3 linked regions of the Homo sapiens genome follow. The protein of the gene in region 1 interacts with the protein of each later gene in a pairwise test. Each region holds a gene or a part of one and is shown in the gene's direction. Other genes may lie near its edges.

The links.
Region 2: the proteins of SLC30A8 (region 1) and CGRRF1 interact in binary tests that used the Homo sapiens proteins (3 or more experiments, as listed by UniProt).
Region 3: the proteins of SLC30A8 (region 1) and CLDN6 interact in binary tests that used the Homo sapiens proteins (3 or more experiments, as listed by UniProt).

Annotation. Positions count from the first base shown.
Region 1 is NC_000008.11:117,169,495-117,173,147, forward strand, and holds part of SLC30A8 (proton-coupled zinc antiporter SLC30A8), read left to right. Parts: intron 1-1,539; coding exon 1,540-1,674; intron 1,675-3,041; coding exon 3,042-3,187; 3' UTR 3,188-3,653. UniProt on the Homo sapiens protein: Proton-coupled zinc ion antiporter mediating the entry of zinc into the lumen of pancreatic beta cell secretory granules, thereby regulating insulin secretion.
Region 2 is NC_000014.9:54,526,821-54,530,473, forward strand, and holds part of CGRRF1 (cell growth regulator with RING finger domain protein 1), read left to right. Parts: intron 1-3,228; coding exon 3,229-3,406; intron 3,407-3,653. UniProt on the Homo sapiens protein: Able to inhibit growth in several cell lines.
Region 3 is NC_000016.10:3,015,982-3,019,734, reverse strand, and holds the start of CLDN6 (claudin-6), read left to right. Parts: upstream 1-1,551; 5' UTR 1,552-1,586; intron 1,587-3,692; 5' UTR 3,693-3,713; coding exon 3,714-3,753.

The DNA of each region.
Region 1 (3,653 bases):
TAATCCTCTGGGAAGCTTTTAAACAATGCTTATGCTCAGGCCTCCCATACCCAGTGTTATTAGGCTGTTCTCACATTGCTATAAAGAAATACCTGAGACTGGATAATTTATAAAGAAAATAAGGTTAATTGGCTCATGGTTCTGCAGGCTGTACAGGAAGCATGGTGGCATTTGCTTCTGGGGAGGCCTCAAGAAGCTTCCAATAGCGGCAAAAGGCAAAGGGGGAGAAGGCACGTCACATGATGGGAATGGAGCAAGGGCAAGGGAGGTGCTACACACTTTTAAATGACCAAATCTTGCAAGAACTCACTCATCATCGCAAAGACAGCACCAAGCCATGAGGGATCTGGCACCATGACCCAAACACCTCCCACCAGGCCCCATTTCCAGCATTAGGGATTACAATTCAACATGAGACACTGGCAAGGATAAATATGCAAACTATATCACCCAGAGATTCTGATTTAATTGTCTGGGGTTGGGGCTGGCTTTGGTATTTTTAAAAACATGTAGTCAGACTAGAGAACCACTGCAAAGCAGAGCTGCTCAGTGGCTCATGAATGTTGGTGCAGTGGTTCTCAATCTTGGCTGCCTGATAGAATCACCAAATGAGCATTGATGTTGGGCCTTATCCACAGAGATTCTGATTTAATTGGTCTTGGGTGTAACTTAGTCATCAGGATTTCTAAAATCTCCTCTGGTAATACTAATGTGCATCCAAGGTTGAAAACCACTCTGAAAGACTCTAGATTTTGGAGCTTCATCCATAGAAATTTCCTTTTAGGTCTGGAATGGAGTCGTGGTACATTTATTTTTAATAAACACCCCAGGTGTTTGTGTTGTTTGTACATAACTGAAGTAGAGGCTAAAAAAGGGCTGTACTTAGACATCTCTTCTACAGCATCCTCCAATGTAGCTAAAATAATAGAAAACTTACAAACCGAATAAGATGGTATTATACAATGTTAGGATCCTCTATTAGCACAGTTCACTAAATGACCTGTTGAGTAACTAATCTTTGTACAACATTGCTGTTCATAATGATTAGATATTTTCTGAATTGCTCCTCAAAGATCTCTGTGATCTATGTGTTGTTCTTAACACCCTTATTTTACTACAAATGTGCTGAGGGTCAGAGAAGTTCTGGGATTTGGGTAAATTCACAATAGTTGTCGTCAGGATGCTAACCCATGATTATTTGATACCAAATTTCATGTTATTTCATTTTACTTTCCAGAGTGTATATAAAGATAGTTGGAAAAGGCACAGTTAGTTTAATAGTATACCATAAAAACTAAGGATAATTACCATTGTTGGTTATTGCATAGTAAATTCTGCAAGTATTCTGAGTGGGAAATTTTGATTGATGGTAAACCTTGAAGTAGTCAGGTAAATCTTATTTGTAAACATTTGAAGTAAGAAACCAGCAAAGGGATGAACACATTGAAATTTTGGTGAGGACTTTGCAGCTTGTTTAGGTAATTCAATGAGCTGTATCTAGTTGAATAACTACAGCCTCCATCTCTTCCCTTTTGTCAGGTGTGCCAAAGAGCCTGAATTACAGTGGTGTGAAAGAGCTTATTTTAGCAGTCGACGGGGTGCTGTCTGTGCACAGCCTGCACATCTGGTCTCTAACAATGAATCAAGTAATTCTCTCAGCTCATGTTGCTACAGGTCAGTGAGTTTTGTAAACACCCTGGAAAAAATTCAGTCCTTGTCCTGTAAAGTCAGTAATTTCCCTTCTTTTTGTAGAGCTGCCCTTATTGTCTGTTGCTTGTCAAAACATTATAAAGTGTTTTCTATTACCAAGGGCCTTTGAAACCAGCCCACTTATTGATGTTGTCATAGCAACAATGATACCCACGACATTCTTGGGGCTGACTGCAGAGGGCTGAGGACAGACAGAACAAAGGACTAAAATGCACCCGCCACTTCAAGGCCTTGGACTCTGAATATTCAACTTCATCTGTTTGGCTTGGTGCCCTATCAGTCAAATAATAGGAATGAATTAAAAACTTAATCTTAATTGAGTATCTCCTATGTATAAGATGTTTTTCCTGGCACTGAAAATAGGAAGATGAAAGAGACACCAGCCCCACTCTTAAATTTCTAACAAGCTAATGGATGTGCTAATAGGAATTATGGTGGGGTCCCACACTGTATGATTAGAAATTCTGTAGCCATGTGAGAAAATTCTTATAATACTAGGTTTATACTAAAATTACTTTTTCAAGAAGTTAATTTTGTCTCTGATATGTCCTAGAGCTGGGAGGATAGGCAGTGGGAGGGCATTTACTGCCTCAAGAGAAAGCTCAGGCCAAGGATAACACATTAGGCTGCTAAAAAATGACTCAAGGAGTTACTTAGGGGCAGGGGACAGGAACACTAGTGACAGTCATTTGAAAACTGTGCTTTCTCAGACATCGTCATCTTCTCGAAGGGGCTTAGGTCTGACTTGAGGGAATTTACAGCATTCACTATGCCAATATTTCACTGCAAATGGAAGAATCTAGTAAACACTCAGGTTGCTATGGAGGAGACTTTACAGCCTGCTGATAGCATTTGGGACAGGAAAAAAATGGCAGTGAGGGTTGCTGCTCTAAGAAAGGTCTGTGGGGAGCTCTAAACGCTTCCTGGTTCCTGTCACTATCCTTGATATAAATTCTGATTACATACAAAGCCTGCAACCCAGAGATCCCTGGGAGCTGGTGAGCAGGGCTGTATAAGAAATAATAGTTCTGTCTTGGCTTTTTCCAGGGCTTGTCTCCCCTTCCATAGTAAGCTCCTAGGAATGCCAGACTCCAGAGATAACAGTGGACAGAAAGAGTTCCCATAGCGACAGGGCACTTTGCTGCACTAGAGTTTCCCCTGCCTTGTCTGTGTGAATGTAGCTGATTATCAGAGCAAACGTGGCTTCCTCTGAGTGCCCTGCCTCTGCCCCACCCCAGCAGGTCAAAGACAAAGTACTTGAAGTTGGAGTCAGAGCAGTCGCCCATGCGTGTGCAATCAGTGCTAATCTCCCTGTGCTTCTTTATCAACAGCAGCCAGCCGGGACAGCCAAGTGGTTCGGAGAGAAATTGCTAAAGCCCTTAGCAAAAGCTTTACGATGCACTCACTCACCATTCAGATGGAATCTCCAGTTGACCAGGACCCCGACTGCCTTTTCTGTGAAGACCCCTGTGACTAGCTCAGTCACACCGTCAGTTTCCCAAATTTGACAGGCCACCTTCAAACATGCTGCTATGCAGTTTCTGCATCATAGAAAATAAGGAACCAAAGGAAGAAATTCATGTCATGGTGCAATGCACATTTTATCTATTTATTTAGTTCCATTCACCATGAAGGAAGAGGCACTGAGATCCATCAATCAATTGGATTATATACTGATCAGTAGCTGTGTTCAATTGCAGGAATGTGTATATAGATTATTCCTGAGTGGAGCCGAAGTAACAGCTGTTTGTAACTATCGGCAATACCAAATTCATCTCCCTTCCAATAATGCATCTTGAGAACACATAGGTAAATTTGAACTCAGGAAAGTCTTACTAGAAATCAGTGGAAGGGACAAATAGTCACAAAATTTTACCAAAACATTAGAAACAAAAAATAAGGAGAGCCAAGTCAGGAATAAAAGTGACTCTGTATGCTAACGC
Region 2 (3,653 bases), on another chromosome or scaffold:
AAAACTTTCATCTCCCAATACTCTGGCTTTATTATCCTCATGAATGGTCTCCTTGTTTTATTACTGCTTCTCTCACAGGGATCCTTCCTCAAGAAGGTTTGTGGCTTTTCCGCCCCATCATTTCTCCCTTTTTAGTGGCTTAGCATATTTTCTACAGTCCTTATTTTTTTCACTTTTTTGCAAGGCTGTCTCTTACACTCCGCTTTATTTGCTTGTTATAGATAGTCTGGGTAAGGACAGTTTGAGAGATACCACACCCATGTGCTTCACTTATTTTGATTCTGAATTTTCTTACAGCTACGTCCCAATTCTGTTAATGCTATTGATCTAAAGTGATGTCATGTGTGTACTGAGTTTTAGAAGGCAAAAAAATACATAAAAATTGAAACTCTTTGCAAAAAAAAAAGTGGAAAAGGTAAAGGGAGAATAGTTTTGATGGGGGTACTGACACTGTCTTCAGATAGTGGAAATCATTACATTCTCCCCTCAGTTTATGTAATGGACAAGTTTGTAAAAGATTATAGAGATATACCTAATGCTAAATGACGAGTTAATGGGTGCAGGACACCAACATGGCACATGTATACATATGTAGCAAACCTGCACATTGTGCACATGTACCCTAAAACTTAAAGTATAATAATAATAACATTAAAAAAAGAGATTATGGAGAGTATAATTTTATAGATTCTGTAGTTTTTTTAAATTAATTTTAGAGACATTTTAAGATCTGATTAATCTCCAGTTGTCAAAGGTCTCTGACACTCTTCCCATTTTAGTTAAGTATACAAAGTCTATAAACGAGTCTCTTAAGTAGCTCTGAATCTTTGGGGCTCTGGCTTTTTTTTTCTTTTTACAAAGCAAATAAACAGGGTAGTTTTATATGTTCTGTAAGCTGTAAGTTGAGTTTTAAAAGGCTTATCCTTCCATTGTTCTTTTTTTTTTTTTCTTTTTTTGAAACAGGGTCTCACTCTGTCATCCAGGTGGAAATGTAGTGGTGTGATCATGGCTGACTGCAGCCGTGATCCTCCTACCTCAGCCTTCCAAGAAGTTAGGACCACGGGTGCGTGCCACCATGCCCAGCTAATTTTTGTGTGTTTTGTAGAGACATGGTTTTGCCACGTTGGCCCAGGCTGGTCTCAAACTCCTGGCTCAAGTGATCTGCACATCTTGGCCTCCCAAAGTGCTGGAATTACAGGCATGAAACACCACACCCAGCCTGTTCTTCTTTAATGTAAACAAACACATATATGGGTATCCATTCTTGTGAGATAAACAGTAGCATATATATTTAATTTTCTCTACCTTGCTTTTTTTTCATTTACTAATATATTCTGAAGATCATTTCATAATAGTGTGTGCAGATACTCTGATATACCTCAATTCTTTTTTTTTTTTTTTTTTTTTTAAGAGACAGAGTCTCACTGTGTCAGCCAGGTTGTAGTGCAGTGGCACGATCTCGGCTCACTGTAACCTCCGCCTTCCTATTCACTTTTAATAGCTTCTTAGTACTTTATTGTAGAGTACTATATTTATTCATTTAATCCGCATTGATGAACATTTGGGTTTATTCCAGCATTTTGCTATGATAACTAGTGCTATAATGAGTAGCCTTATACATATATCTTTTCACATTTTTGCTAGTAATACAATAATAAATAATCATTTTGTGTTTCTTGTTTTTTCTTTTTCAATGTTTTAAAATATGCATTTTCTATTTTTTCCTTTCGTATCTACCTCCAGCTTTTTTCTTCTGCCTCATGTTATGTGGTTCTACAGTGACAAAGGGAAAAATATGTGTGATTTTGTATGTGTGTGTATATGTGTGTATATGTATTTGTGTATGTATAAATAAAATGTTTTCCTTCAGCTATTTAATATCAAATGGAATTTTTCATTCTTGAGTTAATACCTGATGATTGGAATCATAAAAATTTGAAATCAAAGCCTGCTCCAATTAACCTATGCAAAGTTCCTACCAATTAAAATTTTTCCTTAAGTATGATTAGAAATGGCCATGTATCAATGCTACTCAGACTCTCAGACTGTGTGTACATACTACTAAATACTGAGAGTAAAATTGGAAAAATCAGTTTTTGGTATCCTGTGGAGCATCTGCTTGTATTTGTGTATCTTCTTCTAACATATACTCTTGATCACATTTTAAAAAATAGGTAATATATCAATCAGAATTCTTATTAGCAAGCAACAGAAACAACTTCAATAAAAGGATATTGGGTAGCTTACAGAATTGCTGGCAGGTTTGGAGAGCCAAAATCAGATGCCAAGGCTGTTGAGCCAGGAACAATGACCAAAACCAGGCCCTTTTTATCTAGTCAGTGTATCAGTGCCAAGGAGTACTACACGTTACAGTTTGCGCTGCTACAGTTTGCACCCCCAGCAGTATGAAAGGCTGGATGTTGCTACCCTTGAATGTGATATTGCTACAAATACCACTAGGAGGGGGAAATCACATAGGTGACACAAAGTAAGTCCTATACAAGTGTTAAATAAAACTGTATAATTTCACATCTACTTACAATTTGTATATCCATTTAATCAGGTCTACTCAAATTGTTATATCTTCTTAAGTTGAAAGTGAACAACTGAATTAAGATACCACTATTAAACTCTTTATGTTTTGGAATCCCCACTCTTTTCCTCAGGATATTTTGCATATTACATGGGACATTAAGTCTGTGACAAGCCTGTATGTTAATGTTGTCAATGTATACATTAATGTTAGTAAAGCTCAGTTTCTTTTTAATATTTTTCTTACAACAGCGATCATGTTGTGGAGCCTATAGGTTGTACATATCCCCTTTAGAGGACAGCTGTATTCTGCTGCACTGTTTCTTGTCGTTAGGATCATATACACTATGAGAGTGGTAGGTTATCAATAGTGAACTGTATTTTAGTTTTAAAAATCTAGATGGGAAATGTCTTAGAGTCGCCAAAAAAGAAAATTAACAGTTTCTAAGCTTTAATAGATAAATAGTAAGAAATAGTTTTTTGATAGCTCTCAAAAAATGTGTAGACATTGAGCTTTTATATCTCTTGTTACAGAGGCCAGTTCCTTCGTTTATAGGAGGCATACCCTTTAACAAGTTCTTTTAACTGCCATCATCCTGGCCAGCATCCAAAAGGAAGCTTTTGTTACTCACCCTGTATGATTGTATTAGAAGTTACATTAAATCACTTTCATTCTTTCTCCTTTGTTTTTTACAGCTGGCATAACCTTGACAACAGATTGCCTTGAAGATAGCCTCCTTACATGCTACTGGGGGTGCAGTGTTCAAAAATTATATGAAGCTCTGCAGAAGCATGTTTATTGCTTCAGAATAAGCACTCCCCAAGCATTAGAAGATGCTCTGTATAGTGAATATCTCTATCAGGAACAGTATTTGTATCCTTTCGTCTGATATACCCATTAGCACTGAAAATTAGACTTCTTATGGATAAAGTGTTGCTAACTTATTGATCATTCTTGGTATACTAGAAGCATGTTTATTGCTTCAGAATAAGCACTCCTCAAGCATTAGAAGATGCTCTGTGGAGTGAATATCTCTATCAGGAACAGTATTTGTATCCTTTCATCTGATATACCCATTAGCACTGAAAATTAGACTTCTTATGGATAAAGTGTTGCTAAC
Region 3 (3,753 bases), on another chromosome or scaffold:
AAAAGAAATCAGACACACGACCAATCCATGCAGAGATCACTGCAGCTTCCTTCCCCCCACCTCCCCTTGAGATTGCGTCTCACTCTTGCTCAGCCTGGAGTGCAGTGGTACGATCACGGCTCTCTGGGCTCAGGTGAGCCTCCCACCTCAGCCTCCCAAGTAGCTGGGACCACAGGCCCTGCCCCACCACGTCCGGCTAATTTTTGTATTTTTTGTAGAGACCAGGGTCTTACTATGTTGCCCAGGTTAGCCTGGCCACTACAGCTTTGTTAAGGGCCCGGGGGGTATAACAATTAAACCTGAGGTCAGGAGCTCGAGACCAGCCTGGCCAACTTGGTGAACCCCCGTCTTTACTAAAAATAAAAAAAAGAAAGAAGTTAGCCGGGCGTGGTAGTGGGCGCCTGTAATCTCAGCTACTCGGGAGACTGAGGCAGGAGAATTTCTGGAACCTGGGAGACGGAGGTTGCAGTCAGTCGAGATAGCGCCATTGCACTCCAGACTGGGCGACAGAGAGGGCCTCCATCTCAAAAAACAAAACAGGCCGGGCGCGGTGGCTCACGCCTGTAATCCCAGCACATTGGGAGGCCGAGGCGGGCAGATCACGAGGTCAGGAAATCGAGGCCATCCTGGCTAACACGGTGAAACCCCGTCTCTACTAAAAATACAAAAAAATTAGTCGGGGGTGGTGGCGGGCACCTGTAGTAGTCCCAGCTACTCTGGAGGCTGAGGCAGGTGAATGGCGTGAACCCGGAAGGCAGAGCTTGCAGTGAGCCAAGATCGCGCCACCACACTCCAGCCTTGGCGAGAGAGCGAGACTCCATCTCAAAAACAAACAACAACAACAACAAAAAACCAGCAACATAAAAATAATATTATCTGGCCGGGCGCGGTGGCTTAAGCCGGTAATCCCAGCGCAGTGCGAGGCCAAGGCGGGCGGATCGCTTGAGTCCGGGAGTTCGAGACGCCTGGGCAATATAACAAGACCCTGTCTATACAAAACAAAACATAAATTAGCTGGGCACGGTGGCGTGTGCTGCCTGTAGTCCCAGCTACTCAGGAGGCTGAGGCGGGAGGATCGCTTGAGCCCAGAAGGTCGAGACTGCAGTGAGCCGTGATCGCACCACTGCACTCCAGCCTGGGTGACACAGTGAAAATATTTCTCTAAAATAATACCAATAGTATGCCCTTTAATTTGTACCTTAGGACGTAGTTACATAATAAAATGCAGACTTGTTATCTCCATTTTGCAGAGTAGGAAACGAAGGCTCGGGAAGGTTAGGTGAGTTCCCCATGTCACCGCGCTGCTTAAGTGGTGAAGCGGAGTCTCAAGCTCTGTTCTACCCTAAGCCTGGCGCCCTCACCCTGGGTGAGTCTGGACGTCTGCCAGCCCGAGGCGGGCCCAGCGACCCCAGCCTCCAGCGCCCCCCTCTGACAAGCCTGGGATTCGCACGCCCGCTGCCGTCAGGGACAGGGTCTCTGCCCCTCCTCCGGGGCGGTGGTCCAGTGACGTCACCGCTTCTTTAAGACCCCCGCCTCCGCCCCTGTCCCGACACTCGGCCTAGGAATTTCCCTTATCTCCTTCGCAGGTGAGTCCGGGGCTAGTGTGCGTGTTGGAGAGACGCCTCTTGGGGCCGGGTGCAGGGTGGTGGCGGCGTGGGTAGGGGTGCGTGCGAACTCGGGCTGCGGCCACCTGGATGGGCGAGTCCCTGAGGGGGTCGGCCGGTCCGCGCCCAAGCCTCCGAGGTGATAGGGTCCTTCGGGGCTCCCAAGGGTTAAACGCCCCTCCCCCCTCCCCAGGGACAAAGACTCCGAAACCCCTGGCGCCCCTCCCCCACCTGCCTTGCCTCTCGGGGCGGGGCGCCCCTCCCCCCTCCCCCTCACCTGGGGGAGCGGACCTTGCGGCCACTGCAGCTATAGAACCCCTCCAGGGCGCGCGGCTCCCAGGCTGGGGTGGTCGGGTGGGCCGGGGCGCCCTCGGACAGAGTCTTTTTCATGCAGTGCATGAAAAAGAAAGGGGCAGGGGCACACTCAGAGGGGAGAGGCCTGGGCGCCTATACCAGCGCGGCCCCGACCCTAACTCGGCCAGAGGCCTAAGGGCCGGACCTGAGCGCTGGGGCACCGTGCCCCAGCCAGTCTCCCCAAGGTGGTCTGCTCCGCCCAGGCCTGGGGCCCCCGGCTAATGAGTAGAGCCTGCCCTCCGACCGCTGCCGGCCGGGAAAAGTTTAGGTCCAAGCCGTACAATGAAAGTACTCTGGGCAGTGGGAGGCCACAGCCCGGCCCTAGTCAGAAGTGATTCCCTCCACGACCTCCAACACTGAGGGGACACAGGTGCAGGCCAGGTGGCGGTGGGAGAACTGGTGTTGAGGGGAGTCTAGCACGGCATTTTCGTCTAGAATTCATAGGAAAAGGCCCTCAGCCTTGAGGCTATGCTCTCCGGCGCCTAGGGCAGGTCAGAAGGGTGGGGCCAGGGAGTTATCCACTGGCTTTGGGGGAGGAACTGCTTTTAGATGGGGGATTAATGATGCTTTTCTTCATCTCTCCTGGTCCTGGTGTCTGCCAGCCTGGGGTGTGGAACCAAGTTGTGAGGGACATTGGGTGGTGGGAGGAAGCTTAGGATCTCCAATCTTAGTGTTGAAATTAACAAGTTTTGGTTGGGCACGGTGGCTCACACCTGTAATCCCAGCACTTTGGGAGGCTTGAGGCGGGCAGATCACCTGAGGTCAGGAGTTCGAGACCCGCCTGGCCAACTTGATGAAACCCTGTTTCTACTAAAAATACAAAAATTAAGACCAGGTGTGGTGGCTCATGCCTGTAATCCCAGCACTCTGGGAGGCTGAGGCGGGAGGATCACGAAGTCAGGAGATCGAGACCATCCTGGCTAACACAGTGAAACCCCGTCTCTACTAAAAATACAAAAAAATTAGCCGGGCGTGGTGGTGAGCGCCTGTAGTCCCAGCTACTCGGGAGGCTGAGGCAGGAGAATGGCGTGAACCGGGGAGGCAGAACTTGCAGTGAGCCGAGATCCCGCCACTGCACTCCAGGCTGGGCGACAGAGCGAGACTCCGTCTTAAAAAAAAAAAAAAAAAATTAGCCGGGCGTGGTGGTGTGCACCTGTAATCCCAGCTACTTGGGAGGCTGAGGCAGGAGAATCGCTTGAACCTGGGAGGCAGAGGTTGCAGTGAGTGGAGATGGCACCACTGCACTCTAGCCTGGGCCACAGAGCGAGACTCCTCGTCTCAAACAAACAAACAAAACAAATGGACAAGTTTTGAGCCTTAAACTCAGGGCTAGAATTGAACCATTCTACACGGAAACTGCTTGGAAATCGCACCGTCCTGTCATCCTGCTTTTTGCCGCCTTGCAGCCTGATCACTGGCTCTGGCCTTGGACTGTCATTGTATAGGTTTCATCCTGTTATCTTTCATTTGCATTCAGGATAGCCAGGGCAGGGCTGCTTGCACAGTCACTGTCATCAGCCAGTGCCTGTCACATAACTAGAAAGAATAATAAATGCTAAAGCATTAAGTGTCCATTTTGCCCACGAGAAGTGAGGCTCAGGGAGCATGTCTTGACTGAGTTCCAGGATGTGATGACCACTTTCCAGGGTGCATGCCCCTAGAGTCCTGTCCACATGTGGCCTGAGGTCTGGGCCTGCCAGGCCTCACCTTGTTGTGCTTCTGTCCCAAACACAGTGCAGCTCCTTCAACCTCGCCATGGCCTCTGCCGGAATGCAGATCCTGGGAGTCGTCCTGA